Homo sapiens: one gene and its partners. The protein of the gene in region 3 purifies or fractionates together with the protein of the main gene of each other region. This does not show direct contact. Each region holds a gene or a part of one and is shown on either strand. Other genes may lie near its edges. The genes, in order: EHD2, ABAT and ZSCAN29.

Region 1 (11,914 bases), on a different chromosome or scaffold from region 3:
AACTTCAAGAGAACTAACTAACCTGGGCCCTGATAAGTCAGGGACTCACAGCACTGGTAGGAGAGGACCGAGGAAACCTCCTCCAAGAATGCGCGCCCAGCCCTCAGGACTACTCACTCGCACCAGCCGGGCCCTCTTCACCAGGTCGTTGAGCTTGCGCAAGGCTGCGTGCCGGGGCAGGCCCTGGATGTCGCGGAAGAGGTCCTGCTCCTCCAGCTCGAAGAGGCGCCGGTTGTCGGGCACGAGGAGGGGCTGGGACCAGAAGGAGCCGATGTAGACGCGCAGCACCTCGGGCGTGCCCACCACCTTGCCCAGCGCCCACATGAGCGCGCCGTAGACGCGCATCAGCTGCTGCGTCTCCACCATGTCGGCCTTGTTGAGCACCACGCGGATCTTGTCCTCATGGCCCCGCAACGCGCCGATGGCCTCTGAGAACTCGTCCGAGATCTCCAGCTTGTGCGCATCAAAGAGCAGGATGATGAGGTCCACGCGCTCCGCGAACCAGCGCAGCACGGCCGGGAAGTCGTAGCCTGGAGTGGGAGTGGAGAGACAGGGGCGCAAGGGGCAGAAATCAGACCCCCACCCTCCAGCCATTCTCAGTAGTATCCCATTCTCTTGCATATTGGACTGTAAAGATGTTCACGTTGTTGGCTGTCCAAATCCTGTCTGGGCAAAATAGCCAAGGCCCTCAGTGGGCACTACTGCTCTGGCTCTCCAGTGCCCAGAATTTCCCCCCTCGCTCTGGCCCCAGCCCCTCAAGCCATCTGGCTACAGGGGGCAATCATCCCCCTTTTCCTTTGCTCGAGCACAATGGCGGGATCACGCCTCCCTGCAACCTCTGCTTCCCGGAGCTCAGGTGATCCTCCCACCTCAGCCTCCCTAGTAGCTGGGACTGCAGGCGCGCATCACCACACCTGGCTAATTTTTTTTTTTTTTTTTTTTTTTGAGTAGAGATGGGATCTCACTATGTTACCCGGGCTGCCGGGCTAGTCTCAAACTCCTGAGCTCAACTGATCCTCCTGCCTCAGCCTCCAAAATGTTGGGATTACAGGCGTGGGCCACCGCGCCCAGCCTCACGGCCTCCATTTTTTCATTTGCTCATTCATTAAGCAGTTATTACAGGTGTGCGTCGGTATGTACATATAGGTTGTTAAAAATACTGACATGTTTGCTAAGAGATCCCCCTGTGCTTCTATGGAACCCCCAAGCCTGCCACATGCCTCTATCACCCCAGCTCCTCCCCAGGACCTGTTGTATCTCCCCACGATCCAGCAACTAGAGTTCATGCTGGATAGCTGTGCTCTTGCCATAGCAGATGATAATTTTTTTTTTTTTTTTTTTTTTTTTTTTTTTTTTTTTTGAGACAGAGTCTCACTCTGTCGCCCAGGCTGGAGTGCAGTGGCATGAATGTGGCTCACTGCAACCTCCACCTCCACCTCCCAGGTTCAAGCAATTCTCCTGCCTCAGCCTCCCGAGTAGCTGGGATTACAGGCATGCACCACCACCCTGGCTAATTTCTGTATTTTTAGTAGAGACGGGGTTTCACCATGTTGGCCAGGCTGAGAAGTTAAATATTTTGCATTTATTTAGCAATACTTACTGAGAGTCTCATGTGTGCCAAGCCCTGTCCTGGGAGCCTGGGATACCGCAGAGAACACACAGACAAGATTCTTGCTCTTATGAAGCACCCATCCCAGCCATGGGTTCCCATGCTCATTCATTCATTCCTTTCACCATTCATTTCCTCATTCACTCCTTCATCCACTCATTCTCACCTTTGCTTCTTCACTCATTTATTCACCAACAAGCAATGCTGAGGAGAGCAGAGAGAAGCGATTGAGACCCCCTGACTTAGCTGTCTGGAAGACCTGGAGTTGAGTCCCTCCTCTGCCCCCATCCACTGTGTGACCTTAGGCAAGTAGCTTAACCTCTCTGAACTTGTGTTTTCTTTTCTGTAAAATGCAAATCATAGGACTGTTGTGAAGCCAGGTGTGATGGCTCAAACCTGTAATCCCAGCACTTTGGGAGGCTGAAGTGGGCAGATCAATTGAGGCCAGGAGTTCAAGACCAGCCTAGCCCTAAAAATACAAAAAAATTAGCCCGGTGTTGGTGGCTCATGCCTATGGTCCCACATATTCAGAAGGCTGAGGCACGAGAATCGCTTGAGCCTGGGAGGCAGAGGTTGCAGTGAGCCGAGATAGCATCACTGCACTCCAGTCTGGGCGACAGAGTGAGACTCTGTCTCAAAAAAAAAAAAAGACTGTTGTGAAGATTAAAAGAATATAAATGAGCTAATATATATAAAGAGCTTAAAATAATGCCTGGCATTGAACTGTACATTTAAAAATGATGGAAGTGGCCAGACAGAGTGGCTCACACCTGTAATCCCAGCACTTTGGGAGGTAGAGGCAGGAGGATCGCTTGAGCCTGGGAGTTTGAGACCAGCCTGGGCAAGATGACAAGACCCTGTCTCTACAGAAAAAAATAAAATAAAAAATTATCCACACATGTTGGCATGCATCTGTAGTCTCAGCTACTCAGGAGGAGGAAGCAAGAGGATCACTTGAGCCCAGCAGTTGGAGGCTGCAGTGAGCCATGATTGCGTCATTGCACTCCAGCCTGCAGACAGAGCAAGACCTTGTCTCTTTAAAAAAAAAAATGGTTGAGCTTTTTTTTTTTTTTTTTTTTCAGACGGAGTCTCGCTGTCGCCCAGGTTGGAGTGCAGTGGCGCGATCTCAGGTCACTGCAACCTCTGCCTCTCGAGTTCAAGCAATTCTCCTGCCTCAGCCTCCCGAGTAGCTGGGATTACAGGTGCCACCACACCCAGCTAATTTCTGTATTTTTAGTAGAGATGGGTTTTCACCATGTTGGCCAGGATGGTCTCCATCTCTTGACCTCATTATCCGCCCACCTCAGCCTCCCAAAGTGCTGAGATTACAGGCATGAGCCACTGAGCCCGGCCATAATGGTTGAGTTTTTATGGCGTGTACGTTAATCCTCAATGAAACTGTTTTTTTAAAAACAGTGCTGGATGTACGGTAAGCACTCAGCAAGTCATGGTGATGTCACCCACTGGGAAGCACCCTCTGTGGTCCCTGCTGTGTGTGTGGAGGCTGAGGCAGTTTCAGCTTTGTCCTTACATCTCTCAGCCCACTGGGGACACAGACCTGGCCCCTGAGTGGTCAGCCCAGGGTGGGCAGGGGGATCCAGGGAGCTGTGGGAGCCCAGGGCCAGTGCCTGACCCAACCCCCAGCCTGGGGGTCAAGGAGGACTTCCAGGAGGAGGGAAGGCAGAGTGGGAACCCGGAGGACGAAGAGTTAACTGGCAGAACAAGGAGCTAGCCCTGATTTACTGACTTCATGCCCTCCAGCTAGAGCTCACTCAGTGACTCTTCACAACAACCCCAGGAGGTGGGCACTGTTCTGACCCCATTTTCCAGATGAGGAAACTGAGGCACAGAGAAGTTAGGGGACTAGCTAGGCGTGGTGGCTCACGCCTGCAATCCCAGCACTTTGGGAGGCTGAGGCGGGTGGATCACCTGAGGTCAGGAGTTCGAGACCAGCCTGACCAACATAGTGAAACCCCGTCTCCACTAAAAATACAAAAAAATTAGCTGGGTGTGGTGGTGGGCACCTGTAATCCCAGCTATTCGGGAGGCTGAGGCAGGAGAATCACTTGAACCCAGGAGGCGGAGGTTGCAGTGAGCCAAGGTCCTGCCACTGCACTCCAGCCTGGGCAACAAGAGCGAAACTCCGTCTCAAAAAAAAAAAAAGAGAGAGAAGTTAGGGGACTTACTCAAGACACACAGGTAAGAGGCGACAGAAGAGGAGTCCCATGGGCCCCTATGCTCCTCCGGGGAGCTGGTGCTTGCACCCATCCTGCCTGAGAGGAAGCAGCCTCCTTGCGGGCAACGCAGGGACCGGGATGGGGTTGGGGGCCGTTGTTTTGGGGGAGGAAGGGCCAAGTCACTGGAGGGACAGCAACTGGAGCCCCCCCTCCCTCCCGGTGTCTCCACAAACACACATACTGGCCCAGATTCGGAAAGTGTGTCTCATGGGGCGGGGAGGGAAGAAGGGAGAGAGGTTGAGTCAGTGTGGGATGGGAGACGTGGCAAAAAGGAACCTTGGGCCCACAACGGCACTCACCCAGCGAAAACAGGCATTGTTGGCACTTCCATAGCGCCTACTGTGTGCACACACAAGTGTGCACCTTCTAAGTGCTTTGTATGTTTTAACTAATTTAACCTTTAGGACAACTATGAGGCCGCTAGTATTATTATTCCCAGTGTGTGTGTGTGTGTGTGTGTGTGTGTGTGTGTGTGTGTGTGTGTGTTTTGTTTTTCTGTTTGTTTATTTTTGAGACCAAGTCTCACTCTATCGCCCAGGCTGGAGTGCAGTGTCATGAGCTCGGCTCACTGCAACCTCCACCTCCTGGGTTCAAGCAATTCTTCTGCCTCAGCCTCCCGAGTAGGTGGGATTACAGGCAAGCACCACCACACCCAGCTAATTTTTGTATTTTTAGTATAGACAGGGTTTCACCATGTTGCCCAGGCTGGTCTCGAACTCCTGACCTCAGGTAATCTGCCCACCTTGGCCTCTCAAACTGCTGGGATTACAGGCGTGAACCACTGCGCCCAGCCCATTATTCCCATTTTGCAGGTAAGAAAACTGAGGCAAAGAGAGGTTAAGTGGCTTGCCTAAGGTCCCACAGTTTAAAAGCAGCAGAAAATAGGCTGGGCGGTGGCTCATGCCTGTAATCCCAACACTTTGGGAGGCCGAGGTGGGTGGATCACGAGGTCAGGAGTTCAAGACCTGCCTGGCTAAGACGGCGAAACCCCGTCTCTACTAAAAATACAAAAAAATTAGCCGGGCATGGTGGCAGGCGCCTGTAATCCCAGCTACTCCGGAGGCTGAGGCAGAGAATTGCTTGAACCCAGGAGGCGGAGGTTGCAGCGAGCCGAGGTCGCACCACTGCACTCCAGCCTGGAAGACAGAGTAAGACTCCATCTCAAAAAAAAAAAAGTAGCATAACATAAATAAATAAAAGTAGCAGAGCCCAGATTTGAGGGCTTTACTATGCTACAATCACACATGCGTGTGTTCACACATCTTACATGCAGAGGCAGCCACACACATGAGCTCGCATACACACACACACACACACACACACACACACACCCCCAGTAGCACATCCAGACACAAACATAGCCAATTACTACAAGATGCAGGCTCCCAGACATACCCGTGTTCACAATCTGGGACCTACACAGATGTTTGTGGTCACACAATCACAAAGATAATGTGAGATGCACACACGGCATAGACACAGAGACCTGCACGAACACACAGGTACAGAGGCACACATGCATGCACACCCACACAGACACAGTCGCACACACATAACCTCCCATGCCCTCCCAAATCCAAAGGCACACACACAGACGTAATCACACACAGTTACACAAAAGATGCACTCCTGCACACACACACATTCTCACATACACAACACCACACAGAAGCACACAACTGTATCCGGAGATACAATCACAGGTAGTCACACACAGTCCCACAAAATCCCCGCAGCCCTGACCGCCCCATGCAGCCACACAAAGTCACACACAGCCCACAGCCCAGATACACATATATGCCTAGACCATCTCACACACAGGCACACAATGTCAGACTCACACCTACAATGATACACACTAAATCCACATAGACACATAGACAAAAGTTGCCCTTTATGTCTGTCTCTCTCACACACACACGTCACAATATAACAGTATATAGGGACAGAATCAGTTGCACACTATCCCACAAAGTCTCTCATAGCCCTACACAGCCCTTCAGAGTCACACAAAGTCATCCAGCAGGCCGGGCATGGTGGCTCACACCTGTAATCCCAGCACTTTGGGAGGCCAAGGCAGGAGGATCACCTGAGGTCAGGAGTTCGAGACCAGCCTGGCCAACATGGTGAAATCCCGTCTCTACTAAAAAAAAATACAAAAATTAGCCGGACATGGGTGCGGCGGGCGCCTGTAGTCCTGGCTACTCAGGAGGCTGAGGCAGCAGAGCCACTTGAACTCGGGAGGCAAAGGTTGCAGTGAGCCGAGATCGCGCCACTCCACTCCAGCCTGGGCGACAGAGTGAGACTCTGTCTCAAAAACAAACAAAACAAAGTCTTCCAGCCACAATTATAGGCACATGCGCACACACACACACACACACAGAGGCATGTACACAATTCAAAGTCATACAACCTCAGAGCCATGGCCACAATGAGGCACGTCCACTGCTATACACAAATGCGTGGAACCACCACACCCAGGAGTACACTCATAATGACACACTTTCCCAAGATATACACAAAGTCACACACACACACACACACACACATATACACACCAACAGCTGGACACTCTCTCCTCCTCTTCCTCTATCCTCAAGGCCAGGGAGGGAGACCCCGTTCCCCACTCCCCCACCACCCATGGCCTTTGAACCCCCCTGCCGGCACCCCTGCCCTGGCTGAGAGAGCCTCTCCCTCCCGCTGTCCCAGGTCCAGGCCCTGGGGTGGGAGCCCCAGGAATTCCTCCCCCTCAGCTGGCAGCGTGTCCTCCCAATCGTTTCTGCAGCTGCCTCCTGCCTTTCTCCCGTGGGGCCTCTGGACGGCAGCCAGAGACATGGTCACCCCCAGCGTCCCCACCCCACCCCAGGCCCAGCCTTCTCGCCAGGGCCTCCCATCCTCTCTGCCCCACATAGCAGCCTCCTTTGCCCCAGTTCTGGGCCTCCAAGGCCATGGGGGGTGGGGGACACAGATCTGTGGGGCTGGGGGACCACAGATGCTGAGCTGGGCTGGGCAGGGGTGGTGAGGGCTCAGCACGCCCGGAGGCCCCGGCTGGAATCCACCCCCCGCCACTCTCCTTGCACAGCTGTTTATAAATTCCAGGCCTGGCCTTGGCCCCCACCCAGATTCCCTTCCCATCCCCTTCTCGGCCCCATCTGTGGCCCAGACGCAGAGCCAGGAGCTCGCAGGGCCCAGCCTCCCCTGCCCGGGCTCTGCCTCCCCTGCCCAGGCTCTGCCTCATCTCCAGGCCTTGTGTCTCCCTGCGTCGCTGTCTCACTGCCTCGGAATCCCTGTCCCTCTTCATCTCTCCCTTCCCATCCTTCCTGCCTGCCCAGACGTGCGGCTCCTGCCCGCTCCCACCACGTGGTCACCCACACACCTCCCCCACCCATCAATGCGAGCCAGCATGGAGCAGTCACAGCTTCCACTAGCTCCCTGCGGCTGCCCCGCCAGCCAGGGCCAGAGGACACAGGCCCAAGTCCCAGCGGAGACACCGCCCCTCCTCCTCTAGACCCAGGAGTCCAGACCCCAGGCCCTCCTACCTCAGACCCAGGAGTCCAGGCCCAGCCCCTCTCCCTCAGACCCAGGAGTCCAGGCCCCAGCTCCTCCTCCCTCAGACCCAGGAGTCCAGACCCCAGTCCCTCCTCCCTCAGACCCAGGAGTCCAGGCCCCCAGCCCCTCCTCCCTCAGACCCAGGAGTCTGGGCCCAGCCCCTCCTCCCTCAGATCCAGGAGTCCAGACCCCAGCCCCTCCTCCCTCAGACCCAGGAGTCCAGACCCCAGCCCCTCCTCCCTCAGACCCAGGAGTCCGGGCCCAGTCCCTCCTCCCTCAGACCCAGGAGTCCAGGCCCCAGCCCCTCCTCCCTCAGACCCCAGGGTCTGGCCCCACTCACCGCGGCTCACTCTCTGCTTGGCACCCGACAGGATACCCGGGGTGTCGATGATGCTGATGCTCTCCAGGACCTGATTAGGGAGCTGGGCACACATGAACCTGGGGGCAGAGGGAGGGTCAGGGGTCAACAGGGAAGGACAGAAGGAGGGAAAACACGAAGAAAACATGAAGAGGGACTCGGGACCGCATGGCAAAGCATCCTTTATGGGCGAAGAAAGACACCGGACAGAAAAAGGGCAACCAGGACCATCTCAGAGTTATAACCAGCCACAGCTCATGTTCAGTGAGCACTTAATTTGTGCCAGGTACTGTTCTTTTTTTTTTTTTTTTTTTTGAGACAGAGTTTTGCTGTTGTCGCCCAGGCTGGAGTGCAATGGCACTATCTCAGCTCACTGCAACCTCCGCCTCCCGAGTTCAAGTGATTCTCCTGCCTAAGCCTCCCGAGTAGCTGGGATTACAGGTGGGCACCACCTCACCCAGCTAATTTTTGTATTTTTAGTAGAGACGGGGTTTCACCATGTTGGCCAGGCTGGTCTCAAACTTCTGGCCTCAAGTGATCTGCCCGCCTCAGCCTCCCAAAGTGCTGGGATTACAGGCGTGAGACACTGCGCCCGGCCACCAGGTGCTATTCCAAGTCCTCACAGCAACCATGGCATAGAGACCATGGTGATCCTGATCCCTTTTTTTTTTTTTTTTTTTTTAGACAGAGTCTCGCTCTGTTGCCCAGGCTGGAATGCAGTGGCACGGTCTCGGCTTACTGCAACCTCCGCCTCCCAGGTTTAAGCAATTCTTCTGCCTCAGCCTCCCGAGTAGCTGGGATTACAGGCACGAACCACCACACCCAGCTAATTTTTTGTGTTTTTGGTAGAGACGGGGTTTCACCATGTTGGCCAGGCTGGTCTCCAACTCCTGGCCTCAAGTGATCTACCTGCCTTGGCCTCCCAAAGCGCTGGGATTACAGGTGTGAGCCACCGGGCCTGGCCCAAGGTGATTGATCCACATTTTTGCAGATGAGGCTACAAGAAGGGCAGAGAGGTCAAGTCATTTGCCTGAGGCCACCCAGCTGGCCGGGATTTGAACCAGGCATACTGACTTCACTAGCCTAGGTGCTCCCCTGGATAAGAGAGCAGAGACAGGCATGGGAAGAACTGGGTAGAGAGAAGGGAATTGGGGCTGAGAAGGAGGGAAACACAGTCAGGGAGGGGACAGAGAAGGGGGACAGCAAGATGCACCCCTGGGACAGAAAGACGTGCCCCCAGGGCCGGGCGCAGTGGCTCACTCGTGTAATCCCAACACTTTGGGAGGCTGAGGCAGGTGGATCACTTGAGGCCAGGAGTTCAAGACCAGCCAGGCCAACATGGTGAAACCCCAACTGTACCTAATAATACAAAAACTCGCTTGGCGTGGTGGTGGGTGTCTGTAATCCCAGCTACTCAGGTGGCTGAGGCAGGAGAATTGCTTGAACCCAGGAGGTGGAGGTTGCCATGAGCTGAGATCGCACCACTGCACTCCAGCCTGGGCGAAAAGAGCGGAAACTCTGTCTTAACAAAAAGAAAAAGAAAGATGCGCCCTGGGCTCGCGGCTGGCACACCTGTTGAGGAAGGTGTTTCCGAAAGGGTTGAGTTTGCGGAAGGGCTTGTCCGGGTCCACGACGAGGGCGTTGCCGGGCACGGTGCCCTCAGTGTCCCCGTGCATGACGGCCACAAAGCAGTCGGTGGTGGGCTCAGGCCCCACGCGGGAGCCGGGCACCTCCTGCTCCAGCAGGTACTGGATGAAGCTGGTCTTGCCCGTGCTGTACTGGCCGGCCACCAGCACCATGGGCTTGCCGTCGAAGTCTGCGTCCTCCAGGGCCGGCGAGTGGAAGGCCCCAAAGCGGTAGTGCTCCTCCAGCGGCAGCAGCTTCGTGCGGTACAGCTCCTTGAGGGCCGAGGTCACCGTGCGGATGGCCTCGGGCTGCTGGCCCCGTGCCCCGCCCCGCTTCAGCCAGCTGAACATGGTGGCTGCACACCGCTCACGGGGTTCACGGAGAGACGTGCAGATGGAGAGCTGCCTGTGGGAGGGGGAGAGGGCATGAGCATAGGCGGCCCAGCCAAGGAGGAAGAAAGGGGTCTGAGTGTAGACTGTCTGGGTGACAGGATGGGTGGAGGAGGAGGAGGAGCACAGATATTTGTGGTCACAAATATGTGGTCACAGAGCATGGATGGCAGGTGGCAGGAGGAAGAATGGAATTGGGCCAGGCGCGATGGCTCACACCTGTAATCCTAGTATTTTGGGAGGCTGAGGTAGGAGGATTGCTTGAGGTCAGTAGTTGAAGACCAGCCTGGGTAAAATAGTGAGACCCCCATCTCTACAAAAAAAATAATTAGCTGGGCATGGTGGTGCATGCCTGTAGTCCTAGCACTTTGGGAGGCTGAGGCAGGAGGATTGCTTGAGCTCAGGAGTTCAAGGCTGCAGGCTGCAGTGAGCTATGATCATGCCGCTGCACTCCAGCCTGGGCTACAGAGTAAGACCCCATCTCAAAAAAAAAAAAAAAAAAAAAGGCCAGGCACAGTGGCTCATGCCTGTAATCCCAGCACTTCGGGAGGCTGAGGCAGGTGGACCACCTGAGGTCAGGAGTTTGAGACCAGCCTGACCAATATGGTGCAATCCTGTCTCTACTAAACATACAAAAAATTAGCCAGGCCTGGTGGTGGCCACCTGTAGTCCCAGCTACTTGGGAGGCTGAGACAGGAGAATCACTTGAACCCAGGAGGCAGAGGTTGCAGTGAGCCGAGATCCCGCCACTGCACTTGACAGAGCGACACTCCATTTCAAAAAAAATAGGGAGATCGTAGCGAACCAGCTGAAGGAGGAGAAAGATTAATGGTGACATGGTTGAAGAAGGGGGATTGATGGTGGTAGTGGAAGACCAAGAGATGGACAAGGCGAAGGATGCAGAAGCTGCCTGGAAGAAACGGATTCCTTAATCGCTTCATTCATTTCTTCCTCCCTTCTCCCTTCCATCATTTGACACCTTTTCACTGAAATCACTCACTCCATGCTTCAGGCACTGTGGACCCAGAAATGAGCCAGAGATCATCCCCTACCCACCCAGGGCCCCCAGTAAGGACCCAGACACATGCCAGACATCCAGAGGAGGGCATGAGAAACAGACCACAGCACCAGTAAGACTCAGGGCAGGGTTGACTTTTGAGCTGCTCCATGAAGAGCAGGCAAGACAAGGGGATTTAGGCAGAGAGGACGGTGCGTGCAAAGGTCTGGGGATGTGAAAGGTCCTGGTGTACTGGGAGCCATGAAACATCTGGGTAGGTGGCCAGACACAGGGGCACAAAGAGGAGGGGTGAGAAATGGAGCTGAGAAGGTTGCCTGGGTGCACCCAGGTCATGAGGGCTGTTGGGTGTTAACAAGAAAAATAATGCAACATTTATGATCACTGCATGCCAGGTACTGTACTAACTCACTTAACATTTATAACCCTGTAAAGTAGGTCTATTATCATCCCTGCTTTGCTTTGCTTTTCTTTCTTTTTATTTATTTATTTATTTATTTATTTATTTATTTATTTATTTGGAGATGGAGTCTCACTCTGTAGCCCAAGCTGGAGTGCAGTGATACAATCTCAGCTCACTGCAGCCTTCACCTCTGGGGCTCAAGGGATTCTCCTGCCTCAGCCTCCCAAGTAGTTGGGACTAGAGGCATGCACCACCACACCCAGTTAATTTTTTTTTGTATTTTTAGTAGAGATGGGTTTCACCATGTTGCCCTGGGTGGTCTCGAACTCCTGAGCTCAGGTGATCCACCCACCTCAGCCTCCCAAATTGTTGGGATTACAGGTGTGTGCCACCATGCCGGCTCATCTCTGCTTTTTTAACAAGGCAAAGGAGGCTCAGGAAGACAGCAATAAATTACCCAAGATCACTTAGCTGGAAAATGCTCAAGCTGGGACTCAAACACAGGCAGCCTGACCTCAGAGGTTGCAATCCTATTATAGGTCTAAAGATCTGAGTTAGGGAGGTTAGCCATGACCAACCCAGGAGCAATGAGCACCTCCAGCACCCAGACTGTGTTCTCTATCTTCCCTTACTAGCCTTTTATTCACCGTAGGATCTGTAGTGATGTCCCCTCTTTCATTCCCGATATCAGCCACAGGTGTGGGTATTTGCTTTTTTTAAAAAAGAAA
Region 2 (11,914 bases), on a different chromosome or scaffold from region 3:
TTACCGCTTGAAATAGAATGCGGCCCCAAAAAGTGGTCTCCAGGTCTCTAGAGCCCCCTCACCTCTTGGGAGACTGATGCCCCTTCCCCATCCTTAGAAAACTAAGTTTGGGTGTCTTCCTTCTCCCCTCTCTTTCGGAATAATGGGGGTCTTCTCAGCTTATAAATTACAGTGACCTCCCCCTCCATGACAAATGGAAGCTCTCCCCCCATCATAAGACAAGGAAATCCCGGAGCAGAGACTCTGCAAGTCACCCTCCCACCCCAGATACTGGGCTCTGGAGAGATAGATGATTCACCCTTAGCCCTGCCGGAGACCCCTCCCTACCCGTCAGAGAGGCAGGGTGGCCTCTGACACCACCACATTAAAGGCTTTTGGGGATTTCCCCTCTCCTCCCCAGTAAAGATGTAAAATGAGGGACCTTCATACTCAGGAGCAGGGCAAAGGTCTGGCCACCCCTCCAAGTCATCCACCTCCCTCCACTCCACCCAAGCCCTTTCACACAAACCCCATCCTAGTAACCCCCTGCACCATCCTCCCACCGCTCCCAATCCCATCCTTCTCCACCTCACCCCAACTCCACTCCCACACCTGGCTGCCCCACCTATTTCACATCCTCTCACCTTTCCTCACCCACCCTGGCCAAGGTAAGACTAGAGGGGGTTCAGCGAGATTTAGTAAGACTGGAGCTCTTAAAACTGGGATCTGGGGCCTAGAGGCCCTTCCAGGAGTCTTCAAACTCTGACAACAGAGATGGCCTCTGAGGCAGCAGGACCAGCAGAGACCACCCGCCACCTCTCCCCCGCTCCCTGCCCCAACACACGCACAAAGGCTGTGTTCAATGCATTCTCTCTTGCAGTCTGGGAGGACAGCTGGCCCTCTTCCAAGAGGGCCCGCATTTCCCCCCTAAAGTGTGCACCCCCGCAAGCGCCTGTGGACATTGCCTGGTGGAATTCCCTGGGCACTCAGCCAAGAGAAATGGGTGCTGCTGGGCCCATCCACTGGGGAGGAGACAGTGTTGGCTTTGCTGCTTTGATGAAGCTAGACTAAGGGACAGGATGTTGGTGACCTGGGGGTGGGGAGGGGGTGGGAAGAGCTCTTCTCTGGTGGGTCAGGTTGGGAGGCAGGAGAGAGGGAGGCAGTGAGTTGTGTCTTGCTCTTTGGAGCCTGTGTTGCGGCGTGGAGTCATAGAGAAATGTGTTTTCTCGAGGCCCAAAGAGGTTAGCCACGGGGAGAGGTAAATGGTCCAGTCTGGAGTCCTAAGACCTAAAAGGGCTTCTGCATTAAAGACGTGGCCCCTTCATTTGACAGTTAAACACACAGAGGCACAAAAGGGGAAGAGACTTGCTCAAGGTCACCCAGCCTGTGGGAGACAGCTGGCCCCAACCCCTCCAGGACCCTTAAGGTGCTAGGATCCCTGACACAAGCCCCAGTCCTCACATTTACAATGGGGACTTGGGGACTGCTGGGTCCCAAGTCCCCACTTGTCAGAGGAAGCGCCAAGGCTCTGCAAAGGTCATGAAGCCAGGAAGGGGCAGAGCTGGAACTCAATGCCATCCCCCAGCAGGCTGCCTCGTGGAATCCATTCCTGGGTGTCAGCGCATCCCTGCTTACCCCGTGCGATCTTTGTGTTGAGGCCATTGCCAAATCTAGGCTTGCCAAAATCCAAACTGACCCAGGATAGCTAATAAGATCAGTTGCAGCTAATGAGAATGAGATGCTGGAGTGGAGGCTACTGCAGGAACCTCACTTGCATAGCTGGGTTTGCTCCAAGAACTTTGGACAGGTCCTGAGGATGTCATATTCCTTCCCTCCAAGGTCCCCTCCCTCTTAGCCCCTGCCCACGCCCTCTGGCTTTGAGTTCCCTGCACATTGTCTCATCTCTGTTCAGAGGCCTGCGTCTTTTCTCCTGGGGCATTGCATGGGAAAAGAGCTGAAATTCTGGCAGATTCTCTAGGACCACCCAGCTGGGCAGCATGGTCTGAAGTAGAGGCTCTCTCTGTTTCTGCCCCCACCCAGTTCCCAGCTAAAGGATTGGTTGTTGTGCCCCAACTTTGCCAAGGCGAAGTTCAAAGCATGAGGAGGACCACGGTAGAGAGGCCGAGAGGTTGGTCCCTGGAGACCTCTTATCTGGGTCGAGAGCACAAATCTGCCACTTAGTGTCTGATCTTAACCTCTCTGTGACATATCCTTGGGGTAAAATGAGTTAATCCTCATAAAATGTTTAGCACACAGCAAAATGAGCAGAAACAATGATTACAAGTGCAAAGTCATAAAACCTCTAATCATGAAGTGGGGAGGTGCTTATGCCTTAAGGCAAAACTTGTAACCCTTGCCGTAGATAATCTGCCAGGGCCAAGGTGCCTGGGGACAAGGGGATGTCTTCCTAGAGAGACAGTGTAGTATGTGGAATGGACCACAGACCCTGAAGCCAGATGGAGTAGAGAGTTGGCCACTGGTAGTGGCTGTCTATGGAAACTTAGGCAAGTCATTCATGTCTCTGAACCTCAGTTCCTCGTCTTTGAATGAGGTTTGTTGGGGTTGGACATCAGAAAAGAGACAGGTCTAGATGAGGGGTTCTCATTTTGGGCACTGTTGACAGTTGGGTCAGAGGATTCTTTGTTGTGGGACTCCCCTGTGTATTGTAGGATATTCAGCAGCGCCTCTGGTCTCTACCCACTAGATGCCAGTGACACTCCCTACCCCATGAGTCATGTCCATCAGAAATGTCTGCAGACATTGCCAGATGTGCCCTGGGGAGCAAAATCATCCTTTTCCTTCGCTATTGAGAACTGCTGGTCTAATACATGGCCTTAAACATAGTTGATACTTAATATAAAACAGCTTCCTAGCTGAGGCGGGTGGATGGCTTGAGCCCAGGAGTTTGAGACCAGCGTGGGCAACATGGCAAAACCCCATCTCTGTAAAATACAGGAAAAAAAAAATCAGCTGGTCATGGTGGCATGCGCCTGTAGTCCTAGCAACCTGGGAGGCTGAGGTGGGGGGATTGCTTGAGCCCGGGGAGGTCGAAGCTGCAGTGAGCCATGATCACACCACTGCATTCCAGCCTGGGTGACAGAGTGAGACACTGTCTCCAAAAAAAAACAAAATAAAAACCAAAAACAGCTTCTTTCTTGCACAAGCTCCTCGTTTTGGTTTCTGTGTAATGAGGAGAAGGAGATGTGTCTAGCTGTGGAGCCTTCCAATATTAATAACAATTTTTAATTTCTCACATTTACACAAGACTTTCTTGTCTGGTTTTTGTTTTTCTCTTTAGTAGAGACAGAGTCGGGTGGTCTCTAACTCCTAGGCTTAAGCGATCCTCCCGCCTTGGCTTCCCAAAGCACTGGGGTTACAAGTGTGAGTTACAACCAAAGCGCTGGGGTTACAAGTGTGAGTTACAGGAATAAGCCACAGCACCCAACCTACACAGGACCTTATCATCTCCAAAGCACTGTTGTGTCTATGACACTGTTTCTCACTCTACAGATAAGCAAACTAAGCCTCACAAAGGTTAAAAGACTTGTCTAAGACCATCACCCGCTTCTCCACCAGGCATCAGAGAAACATCCATGCCAGAAATTGTTTGAGAAACAACTGAGTTCTGGGCCTTCTTCAGATTAGTTATCAGGGTCTTTCGAAACTTCAATGGCATGCTCTTTGGTCCAGCAATCCCACTTTGAAAAATCTCACACAGAAATGCTCACACTTGCACTGACATAACATAAAAATGTCCATGGCAGAGCTTGCAACACTGGTATGGGAAGGGATTACAGTATATGCATTCATGTGGGAGAATGAGTAGATTTTAGATGAATGAGGTGGATCCACATTCCTGACCTTGAAAGGTTCCTGAGTCATATTATTTAGTGAAAAAGATAAAGTCACAGAATCAACATAGCCAGTATGATCCTATTTTTTTTTAAATGTAAATATGCATGAACATGGATAGTTAGGGAAGTGGGGAATTAAAAGGACCTAGATAGTATGTATGTATGAGAACATATTCCTGGGGGAAGAAGAAGAAAATAAATCTCCGCCAGCTTCCCATGCATTAAAAATGAGCAAAGTGGGCTGGCCACCTTGTCTCACGTCTGCGATCCCAGCACTTTGGGAGGCTGAGGCGGCAGAATCACTTGAGCCCAGGAGTTTGAGGCTGCAGTGAGTTGTGAGTGAGCCACTGCACTCCAACCTGGGCAACAAAGGGACACTGTAAATAATTAATCATAAGATAAAAATTAAAATGAATAGAGCACAACCCACAGAGGTTGAGAGACTTGCTAACACCAGAAGTTGCCAGTGGTGAAATTCAGCTTTGAGTTTGCTGATAGTTACGGGGCCAAGAGACAGGAATCTGAGGCTCATCTCAGCAGGCCAAGCCTCCTTCCTTACTGTGGGGAAATTCCTTCTCTGAGCACCTAGAGGGATCCTGGTGTCAGACTGACCTCACCTGAATCAGGCTTCCACCCACGTGATGACCTCAGGCCAGCCACTTTAACTCTCAGTGCCTCATTTCTCTAACTTTAAAATAGCTAAAAGGCAAAGGAAAAAACATGAAAGCCAAAAAAAAAAAAAAAGGTAGAAGGAGGAGGCAATAGTAGAACCTCTCTCATTGGGCCGCTGTGAGGATTACATAAAACCATGTGTTCCGACCCCCAGTACTTAGTAGGTGCTTAATTAACACGAGCCCTGGTCTCTCCTGCCTTTTTCTCTGCTTGCCTGCTCCTTGCCAGGATGCAGAAGACAAAAGCCTCAGAAAGGACAGTGGGGGCTCCTGAGGCCCCAAGAATGCTTAGCAGGCTGAATCAGTTGTCCTCACTTCTTCACTTTGCCCTCTGATCCACCATGACCACTCTGCTGCAGGAGCTTTTAACAGAAAGCCTGGGAGAGCATTCTGAGGGGGTCTGTGCTATAGCTCTTCCTCCCTGGGGTCTAACCATCCTTGCTTTCTCTAGACACTCCACACATTAAACTGTCTTGCCCGTTGCAGGGATGGGATGGCATCATGTGGCCTCTAATTACACATCCCTTCAATAATAAGATTGACTCTCCAAGGGCAAGTTTTCCTCCTCCTTCAAAAGCTATCTCACATTGCGTCTTTTACAGGTAGTCTTCCCCGACCCTCCCCCACCTCCAGCCAGGAAAACCATTTCTCCTCCTCCCAACTCCTGTCATCCACATCCTAGACTTCCTGGGTCTGCCACATCCTATTCTTCCTGGGTCCATCACATCCTAGATTTCTTGGGTCCATCACTGTTTGCTGGATTTCTTCCCAATCCATAATTGCCTGGAAGCAGCCATCACATCCATCACATTTATTCTTGTGTCTTAAATGCATAGCACACTTCCCTATGCACACAGTAGATATTCAAGGAGCATTGACTGAATGCAGAAAAGTATTTTTTAAATTGGGGTAAAATACACATAACATGAAATTGACCATTTTCATCATTTTATTTTTATGTATTTTTTTGGGGGGCAGGGGGAATCTTGCTCTGTCACCCAGGCTGGAGTGCAGTGGTGTGATCTCGGCTTACTGCAACCTCTGCCTCCTGGGTTCAGGCAATTCTGACTCAGCCTCCCAAGTAGCTGGGATTACATGTGTGGGCCACAACCACGCCCGGCTAATTTTTTTGTATTTTTAGTAGAGACGGGGTTTCACCATGTTGGCCAGGCTGGTCTTGAACTACTGACCTCAAGTGATCCGCCTGCCTCGGCTTCCCAAAGTGCTGGGATTACTGGCATGAGCCACTGCGCCCGACCTCCATTTTTTGATTATTATCATTGGGGTCACTGTGGCAGGTGTGAAGCAATACCACATTGTGGTTTTGATTTGCATTTCCCTAATGACTGATGGCATTGAGCATCTTATGTGTTTGTTGCTTATTTGTATATTATCTTCAGAGAAATGTCTACTCAAGTTCTTTGCCCATTTTTGAATTGAGTTGTCTTTTTGTCTTTTTGTTCTTGAGCTGTAAGAGTTCTTCTTTTCTCTTTTTCTTTTTCTTTTTATTTATCTATTTTTTTTTTTGAGACAGAGTCTCACCCTGTCTGTCACCCAAGCTGGAGTGCAGTGGCATGATCATAGCTTACTGCAGCCTTGACTTCCCAAGCTCAAACAATCCTTCTGCCTCAGTCTTCCAAGTAACTGGCACAACAGGTGCCACCACACCTGGCTAATTTTTTAAAAAGCATTTTTTTGTTGTTGTTGAGATGGAGTCTCCCTATGTAGCCCAGGCTGGTTTTGAACTCCTAGGATCAAGCGATTCTCCCACCTCGGCCTCCCAAAGTGCTGGGATTACAAGTGTGAACTGCCTCGCCTGGCCCAGAGTTCTTTATATAAATAAATGTTTCTTTGTGTCACTATTTCTTCATCCACTTAAATATTTGCTCAGCTCCTGTAGGTCACACACTATCTTGTGATCCTGGGAATACCACCAGTTCCTGCCTATCAGGAACTCACAGTCTACTGCAAAGTTTCTCAGCCTCTACACTTTTTTTTTTTTTTTTGAGAGGGAGTCTTGCTCTGTTGCCCAGGCTGGAGTGCAGTGGCATGATCATGTTTACCTGGAACCTATGAATAGGACCTAATTTGGAAATAGAGACTTTGCAGAAATAGTTAGGTTGAAATGAGGTCTTTCTGCATTAGAGTGGCCCCTAATCCAATGACTGCTATCTTTTTTTTTTTTTTTTTTGAGATGGAGTCTTGCTCTGTTGCCCAGGCTGGGGTGCAGTGGTGCAATCTCAGCTCACTGCAACTTCTGCCTCCCGGGTTCAAGCGATTCTCCTGCCTCAGCATCCTGAGTAGCTGGGATTACAGGCACCCGCCACCACACTCAGCTAATTTTTGTATTTTTAGTGGAGACAGGGTTTCACCATGTTGGCCAGGCTGGTCTTGAACTTGTGACCTCAGGTGATCCACCCGCCTCGGCCTCCCAAAGTGCTGGGATTACAGGCTGAGCCACCTCTCCTGGCCCACCTCTATACTACTGACGTGGAAGCGAGGCTGTCCTGTGCCGGATGTTTAGCAGCATTCTTGGCCTCCACCCACCAGACGCTGGCAACATACCTTCCTCCACGTTGTGACAGCCAGAAATGTCTCCAGGCATTATGAAGTGTCCCCTGGGGAACAAGATTGCCCCTGGTTGAGAATCACCGGTTAGAGGCTAAGACAGCCGTGTATATCTATAATTTCAATCAGATTGCTTGTGCCTAACAGGATACACACACACACACACACACACACACACACACACACACACAGAGGAGGCATTCAGGATGTATTTGTTGGATGTTGGATGGCTGGGGGTGTAGATGGATGCATGGATGGACAGACACAACCCCTTTGTTGGTTGGCTAGATTGATGGATACATGTGTGAATGAATGGATGAATAAATGAATCCAATTTACAAATTCCACTGTGGGAAAACAGAACGCTATTCTTCCAACCAGAGTAGCCTGCCCCTTTATCTCTGTCTAGCACAGTGTTTTTCAAACTTTAGCATCAGAATCCCCTCAAGAGCTTGTTAAAACACAGATTGATGCCCCTGCCCACCAGAATTATGATTTAGTAGAATCACCGGCGGCCAGAATGCTCCCAACTCTATTTCCATGTTCTCTAGGAATCCTGGACCAGCCCCCGACCCCTGCCAACCTTGTCCTTGTCCAGAGGTCCCGTAATCTTCACTGCCAGCATCTCCCATTTAGGTGCTAACATCTATTATCTTGGATATCAGCAACTTGCCAGCACTCTGTCCCTGGGCTGCACTGAGAATTCCTTCAAAGGTGGGACCCACTGTATTCTAGTACCTTACTACTGAAAGTGTGGTCCAGCGGCCAGCAGCATTGCATCTTCTAGGAGCTAGCTAGAAATGCAGAATCTTGGGCCCCACCCAGAACTACAGAATGTGAATCTGCGTTTTAACAATATCCCCTGGGGTGATTTGTGTGCACTTTTAAGTTTGAGAAGCGTATTTTAGACAGATCTGTAAACCCCACACTCAGAGCTAAGCTAGGGATAGCTTTGCTGATAAGTTACATTGACAGCATCTGTTACCATGTAATTGGTGCCTGAGCTGAAGCATCTTTCAGGCATTACTGGCCATTTGTACCTTTGCCTGACGTTATCTCTTGAAATGTCTACACTGGCCTCGCTTTACCCGTGGGAAACCAGAAGCCCAGAGGAGCAGTGCCTTGCCCAAGGTCACACGATGACCATGAAAGCAGAGTGGAGATCACTCTCCACTCCTTAAAGGGAATGGGATCAAGAGGATTGAAATGCTGTATCCACTGAGCAGGGCGGCACATGCCTGTAGTCCCAGCTACTCGGGAGGCTGAGGCAAGAGGATTGCTTGAACCCAGGAGTTCTGGGCCGTACTGTACTATACCAGTCAGGTGTCTGCATTAGTTCGGCATCAATATGGTGACCTCCTGGGAGTGGAGGACCACCAGCTTGCCTAAGAAGGGGTGAACCAGCCCAGGTCAGAAACAGAGCAGGTCAAAACTCCTGTGCTGATCGGTAGTGGAATTATGCCTGTAAATAGCTACTGCACTCCAGCCTGGGCAACATAGTGGAACCCTGTTTCTAAAAAAAAAAAAGAGAGAGAGAGAGAGAGAAAAGAACTGAAATGCTGCTATGATACTGAAAATATGGGGTGTAGGGGGAGCATTCTGAAGCTACTTAGGTCTGTCCTCTGAAACTGGAGAAAGGGGAGATGACTTGAAAGTGATGCAAGAACAAGAACTTAAGTTGTATTCTTTTGTTCATCCAACCAGTGTTTATTGAGTACTTACTAGACTCCAGGCATGGTTGTCTGGTATCTATAGTATTGAACAAGAAAAGCCAGGCCTCCCTTTTGATGGCTTATCTGGAGTGGACAGACGTAGCCATCTGGCATTCATTCGTCAATGAGTGTGTTCATTTATTGCATGATTTCCATGTGCTGTGTACAGTAGTAGGGGTGTGTGCGTGTCTATGTGTCTGTGTGTGTGAGAGAGACAGAGAGAGAGAGAGAGATGGAGGGAGAGACAAAGACTCAGCTACTACACCAGCGCCTCTTCTAGACTAGCCATGCGGAAACAGGCCCCAAAACAAGGACCACACAGTGAGGAGAGTGCCGAAGGTGTGTGGGAGTGAATACAGGTTCAAGCTCAAAGTAAAAAGAGGTTACCACTCCCTGTTCCTGGGGATTCTAGGGAAGAAATTTCAGGAGGAAAAGGCAGAAAAGAAGAGAAAGAGACTCTGTGCAGGGAGAGCATCATGAACAGGCCCAGAGAGTTCATAGGAAGCCGTTCCAAGAAAATCGCAGGGGAAAAAGGAAGGATAGACAGCGTATGGTGGCTCGCACCTGCAATCCCAGCGCTTTGAGAGGCCGAGGTGGGTGGATCACTTGAACCCAGGAGTTCAAGACCAGCCTGGCCAACATGGCCAAACCCCGCCTCTACAAAAAATACTAAAATTAGCCGGGCATGGTGATGCATGCTTGTAGTCCCAACTACTCAGGAAGCTGAGGCAGGAAGATTACTTGAGCCCAGGAGTTTGAGACCAGCCTGGGCAACATAGCAAGACCCCTCAAGACCCCTTCTCTACAAAAAATTTTAAAAATTAGCCAGGTGTGGTAATGTGCACCTGTAGTCCCAGCTACTCAGGAGGCTGAGGCAGGAGGGTCGCTTGAGTCAAGGAGGCCGAGCCAGGCTGCACTGAGCCATAATCATGCCACTGCACTCCAGCGTGGACAACAGAGTGAGATCCTGTCTCAAAAAAAAAAAAAAAAAGGTGGAGGGTAAAATCATGAATCTCATACAGATACAAAAACACTCAATGATTTTATTAGGCTCATTCAATGAGGGAACCAGGCAGACATTAGAACCAGTTCAAAGGAAAAGTCAAATAAAGCACAAATATGTAAAGAGTAAAGGGAGGTCTAAATAGATTCAAAACAGAGGCAAACATGGTTGGACAAGGCAGAATTTGCTTGTCTATCAGTTTTCTACAACTTACAAAGGAGTCAGCAAAGTAGTTTGAAAATAATGAACAAGGCCAGGCATGGTGGTTCATGCCTGCAATCCTAGCACTTTGGGAGGCCGAGGTGGACAGATTGCTTGAGCTCAGGAGTTCGAGACCACCTTGGGCAACATGGTGAAACCCTGTCTCTACCAAAAATACAAAAAATTGGTCAAGCATGGTGGTGCGTGCCTATAGTGCCAACTACTCGGGAGGCTGAGGCACAAGAATCACTTGAGCCTGGGAAGGGGAGGTTGCAGTGAGCCAGGATCACGCCATTGCACTCCAGCTTGAGCAATGGAGACCCTGTCTCAAAATAACAATAATAATGAACAAGTGAACAAGGCTAGAATCAGATAATCCAAAAATTTGTGTTGTAAGTAGGTAGTGCATAACTCTTTTTCTATAAAAACAATGTTACGCCGGGTGTGGTGGCTCTCGCCTGTAATCCAGCACTTTGGGAGGCCGAGGCAGGCAGATTGCCTGAGCTCAGGAGTTCGCGACCAACTTGGGCAACACAGCGAAACCCTGTCTCTGCTAAAAATACAAAAAAAAAAATTAGCCTGGCGTGGCAGCCTGCGCCTGTAGTCCCAACTACTTGGGAGGCTGAGGCAGGAGAATCGCTTGAACCCGGGAGGCGGAGGTTGCAGTGAGCCAAGATTACGCCACTGCACTCCAGCCTGGGCAACAGAGCAAAACCCTGTCTCAAAACAAAAACAAAAAAACAAACAACAGCAACATCGAAAAAACAAAAAAACAAAAAACCAATGTTCAAGTGATGGAGAGGCATGGGTGGATGAGGAGTGGCAAGAGGAGGCTGTAGGAAGAGTAGATCATGTCCCGCCAGGTGACCCATGATCTTGAATTTGGACTTGACTCAGAGACCCATAGGGAACCATGGAAGAGATTAAAGCAAGGCAGTGATGTGATTTTGTTATCACTTGAGAAAGATCCTCCTGGAAGCTGAATGGAGAGTAGACAGACACCTTCTCCCACTAGCCTTTGAGCTCAGATTTCCTTAGGGAAACAGCCAATCCCAGGGGCAGATTGCTGACCTTCCTGCAAAAGGTTTTAGAACGTGGAAGCTCCTTCAGGGCAAGGTTGGCTGAACACCAGCCAAAAGAGCAAGGCACCACCCCGGCAGGACAGGGCTGTTTTGTGCACGGGAACAAAGCCTGCCTCCTCTCTCTGCCCAGAGCTGTAAATAGCACTCTGCTGGCTTCGCAGGCTGAGCGCCGGTCTGGGGACAGGCTGAAAATGCACACACCAAGGAGCATTTGTGCAAATGAATGCCTGCATGCAAATTTGCATGCCTGGCATCCTGCCCCAGCCCTAAGTGTCCAGTCCTGCAAGGGGCTGGAAGCAGGGCTCAAAAAAGAGCCACACACAGAAGAGTGTGGACATTCTGACCTGGGGACAGGTTCCAGGAGGGATTCAGAGGCAGGCTGGCAGGGTGAGTGGGAGAAAACATGCAGAGAACCCTGGACAGAGTTTTGGCTCCAGCTTTACCCATGATAATGACAATGACCCATGAGTAGTAGCCACTCACATTGGCTGTGTATTTGTGTGTAGTTGCTCACCTTGTCGCTCACAACAGCCCTATGAGGAAAGGCTGATCAGATTTCAGAGACAGGAAATGGAAACTCAGAAAGGATGACTGACTCGCCCAGGGTCTCCTACTGAAGGGAGCATTTCTAGTGAGAAACCGAGGCTTGAAGACTCTGGAGCCCTGGTGTCTAGGACTGACCCACATGGACGCCTCTGCATATGCCCACTGCTGGCTCTGACCTCAGTTTACTCCTCCATCAAAGGGTGCAATAATGTCTTTGCACCTAATGATCACAGCAGAGTTTGGGAAATGAACTACCCCTGCAAATGAGAAAGACTTGAAAAGTCATCAATGCTGAATA
Region 3 (3,369 bases):
GGAGTTCAAGACCAGCCTGGACAACGTAGACCCCTCATCAATACAAAACTTTAAAAAATTAGCTGAGTATAGTGGCTCATGCCTGTAGTCTCATCTATTGGGGAGGCTGGGGATCACTTGAGCCCAGGAATTTGAAGCTGCAGTGACCTATGATGGCACCACTGCACTCCAGCCTGGGCAACAGAGTGAGATCCTATCTCTAAAAAATAAATAAAAATTTAAAAAATAAGACTCTGCATGCCCAGTTATCTTGGGTCCTAATTTATTGTGGATATGGATAGAGGTACAAAGGAAGGATTTGCATTCTAATTTCCCTTTTACCACAATCTGACTTATTCCTCTTTCTAGAATATAAAGATTCAGATAAGCATACTTCTAGTAAACCCACACAAGGAGTTAAAAAAAGAAAGATTGGTCTTTTCCTGCCCTCCATAACTTGATCGTAATTTGTGTATATATATACACACACACACATAAACACTTCAAGAAACACCAGGCACTTTATAGACATGATTTTTATTAATATGGTATCCCTGAGAGACAGATTAGGTGTAAACATTATTTTGCTTTACAGAAAGGGAAATGGAGGCAGGTTAACTTACAAGACATCTGGAACCAGAATATCTGTTGATACCACAACCAATGCTTTTCCCACGAGACTATACATAGATATACTAAAGACAATACTTTTTTTTTTTTTTGACATTACAGCACACTTCCTAAATCATCTGAGATCCTGAGGCACTGCTTCAGACTGGTGTTTCTTGTAGCTTCCTGTCTGCTTAGGCAACATAACAGAAGTACCATCTTCCCTTAATTCCTAATAAATATTAGATTTTTTTGTACTAAGATTCAACAGCAGAATCCTAATTAATCTCTAACACAACAAGCTATGAATTATAGAATACTATATCTTCCTACTGCTCTCCCTGATCTTATTCCAGCCACAGAATTCTAATTGAATGTGAAACGGCTACTTATCCCAGTCCTTGGCCATCTGGCCATGTTTATCTTTCTTCTCACCTGCTCATCAAAATATCTTCATCAGATACTACGATTTCTGACCTTTATCTCCCATAGGAGCTAGTCCCCTAAAACTGCTTATTCTTTCAGTGGCAGTCAGCTGTTTCCTTATCAATAGTTATAGCGTAGTACCTGATTTACTATAGATGATGGTTCTACCACCTCATGGTCTGCTCCTAACACCCATGTTTCAGCTAAGGTGATTCTCTCTGCCTGCTGCACAGCCCATATCATACTATTCCTCAAGTTCTCATGCTACTCCAAGCTTTATCTGGCCTTCCTTACAGTCTATCCTTTGCCCTTTGTTCCATCTACACAAAACACCTTGCTCCCCCTTTTTCCCATTCCTCAACCCACCCAGCACTCAATTTTGCAACTAGTTATGGAAAGTTCTTCCTATCATAATTTAACCAGTAACCTTCCCTCCTTTGACCACTTCCTGCTTCATGAAGCCTTCCTGAATAAAGAGAAAAAATACCTCCCAGATTTTTGTTAAAGCAAACTAATGCATTGGACCACAACATTTATGCATAGTGTTGCTACCTAGCTTTCTAGATTTCTCTAAAACTGCCGCAACTATGCATGTGCACTTGTTTGTCCATGTCAGTGTCATCTGCTTTAGATTGTAAGGACAAGGAGAGGACCTGTTGACCTTGTGCTATACAGGGCTCATCATACTATGAGCATATGGGCAGTTAATACTATTGTATTATAAAGATGAGTAATTATATTTGCATTTAAAGAACTGCTTTTAATTGTATTCAGTTGAATGTGTATGTCTAGATTGGCAGCTCCACTGGCCAAAGATAATCCATCTTCCCTGCCATTAGGGTAAAGGGCCTGTTCGCACACAGTAGTCCATTTTCCCAATACACGGGAATGTGGCAGTGGCTTCTGCTTATTGCAGGTAAGTGCCCATGGAGGGCATAACACTATACCAGGTGTGTGGAATATGGACGAGTTCCTATTGGCAGCTTTAACTGCTCTACCTGTCACCACATGCAGCTGCGTTGCTCTGTGGAACTTCTGGACCACAAGAGACAGACGAAATTCAGATGAGACTGGACAGAAAGAAAACCAACCTAAATCCTGTAAATGTATTATTCTATTCCAACCCTTCTTCTAGGACTCAGAAGAAACTAAGAAATCCAGGGTTCACACTTCAGTATAAGGTTTTCATTGTTTCTGCATAAGAACACCTGTTCTTGACAAGATGATTCATAGGGCAGAACCAAGATGGACATTAAACTCTCCTTCTTTAAGGTAAATGAAGAGGGTGCCTGACAAATATGTCATTTTGAGCACAGGTTTAAGTGAGCAGGAAGAGTCATTCATTTTAGCATTTCCATTATTGTATAAAGAAGAGCTGGGCCGGGTGCAGTGGCTCACACCTGTAATCCCAGCACTTTGGGAGACCTAGGCAGGCAGATCATGAGGTCAATTCAAAACCAGCCTGGCCAACATGGTGAAACCCCATCTCTACTAAAAATGCAAAATTTAGCCTGGTATGGTGGCAGGTGGCTGTAATCCCAGCTACTCAGGAGGCTGAGGCAGGAAAATTGTTTGAACCCAGAAGGCAGAGGTTGCAGTGAGCTGAGATCATGCCACTGCACTCCAGCCTGGACGACAGAGTGAGACTCCATCTCGAAAAAAAAAAGCCCGGCGCAGTGGCTCATGCCTGTAATCCCAGCACTTTGGGAGGCCGAGGCAGGCAGATCACCTGAGGTCGGGAGTTTGAGACCAGCCTGCCCAACATGGAGAAACCCCATCTCTACTAAAAATATAAAATTAGCTGGGCATGGTGGCGCATGCTTGTAATTCCAGCCACTTGGGAGGCTGAGGCAGGAGAATCACTTGAACCCGGGAAGCAGAGGTTGCAGTGAGCTGAGATCGTGCCATTGCACTCCAGCCTGGGCAACAAGAGCAAAACTCCGTCTCCAAAAAAAAAAAAAAGAGCTAGACCCACCTAATGGGCAAAGTCTCATAACTTCTTCTCGAAATGTAATGGGTTTTTCCTGTCAAAATGCAGCTGAATGACAGAATGAGTAAAGAAGGATGCTTATCAAATTCATAGGATCTATTACCTTGTCCTCTGTGCTTATATTAAGGGAACACCATAGGCACTGAGAGGGAAAAGATGTTATCCATCAATTCAGATGCAGGCAAAGAGAGGGACTGAAATCTTCCTTTCATTCTTTAGACTGCCTTGGGGATTTGAGTCTAGATCAGGAAAAACAAGGAACAAACAGTGGCATAAATCCTAAAGTGAATTTCCTAAGCTAACTGGACACAGAATAGTAGATGAATCTCACTATTGGAAGACTTTCTAAACAATACATTTATTGA

Evidence for each region.
Region 1: the proteins of ZSCAN29 (region 3) and EHD2 purify together in Homo sapiens (affinity purification with mass spectrometry; 2 studies listed by BioGRID and IntAct, with this or other methods). This does not show direct contact.
Region 2: the proteins of ZSCAN29 (region 3) and ABAT purify together in Homo sapiens (affinity purification with mass spectrometry; 2 studies listed by BioGRID and IntAct, with this or other methods). This does not show direct contact.

The regions. Positions count from the first base shown.
Region 1 is NC_000019.10:47,714,428-47,726,341, reverse strand, and holds part of EHD2 (EH domain-containing protein 2), read right to left. Parts: intron 9,785-11,914; 5' UTR 9,730-9,784; coding exon 9,326-9,729; intron 7,834-9,325; coding exon 7,736-7,833; intron 531-7,735; coding exon 118-530; intron 1-117. UniProt on the Homo sapiens protein: ATP- and membrane-binding protein that controls membrane reorganization/tubulation upon ATP hydrolysis. Plays a role in membrane trafficking between the plasma membrane and endosomes. Important for the internalization of GLUT4.
Region 2 is NC_000016.10:8,674,965-8,686,878, forward strand, and holds part of ABAT (4-aminobutyrate aminotransferase, mitochondrial isoform 1 precursor), read left to right. Parts: intron 1-8,294; exon of another isoform or gene 8,295-8,587; intron 8,588-11,914. UniProt on the Homo sapiens protein: Catalyzes the conversion of gamma-aminobutyrate and L-beta-aminoisobutyrate to succinate semialdehyde and methylmalonate semialdehyde, respectively. Can also convert delta-aminovalerate and beta-alanine.
Region 3 is NC_000015.10:43,357,675-43,361,043, forward strand, and holds the end of ZSCAN29 (zinc finger and SCAN domain-containing protein 29), read right to left. Parts: 3' UTR 501-3,369; downstream 1-500. UniProt on the Homo sapiens protein: May be involved in transcriptional regulation.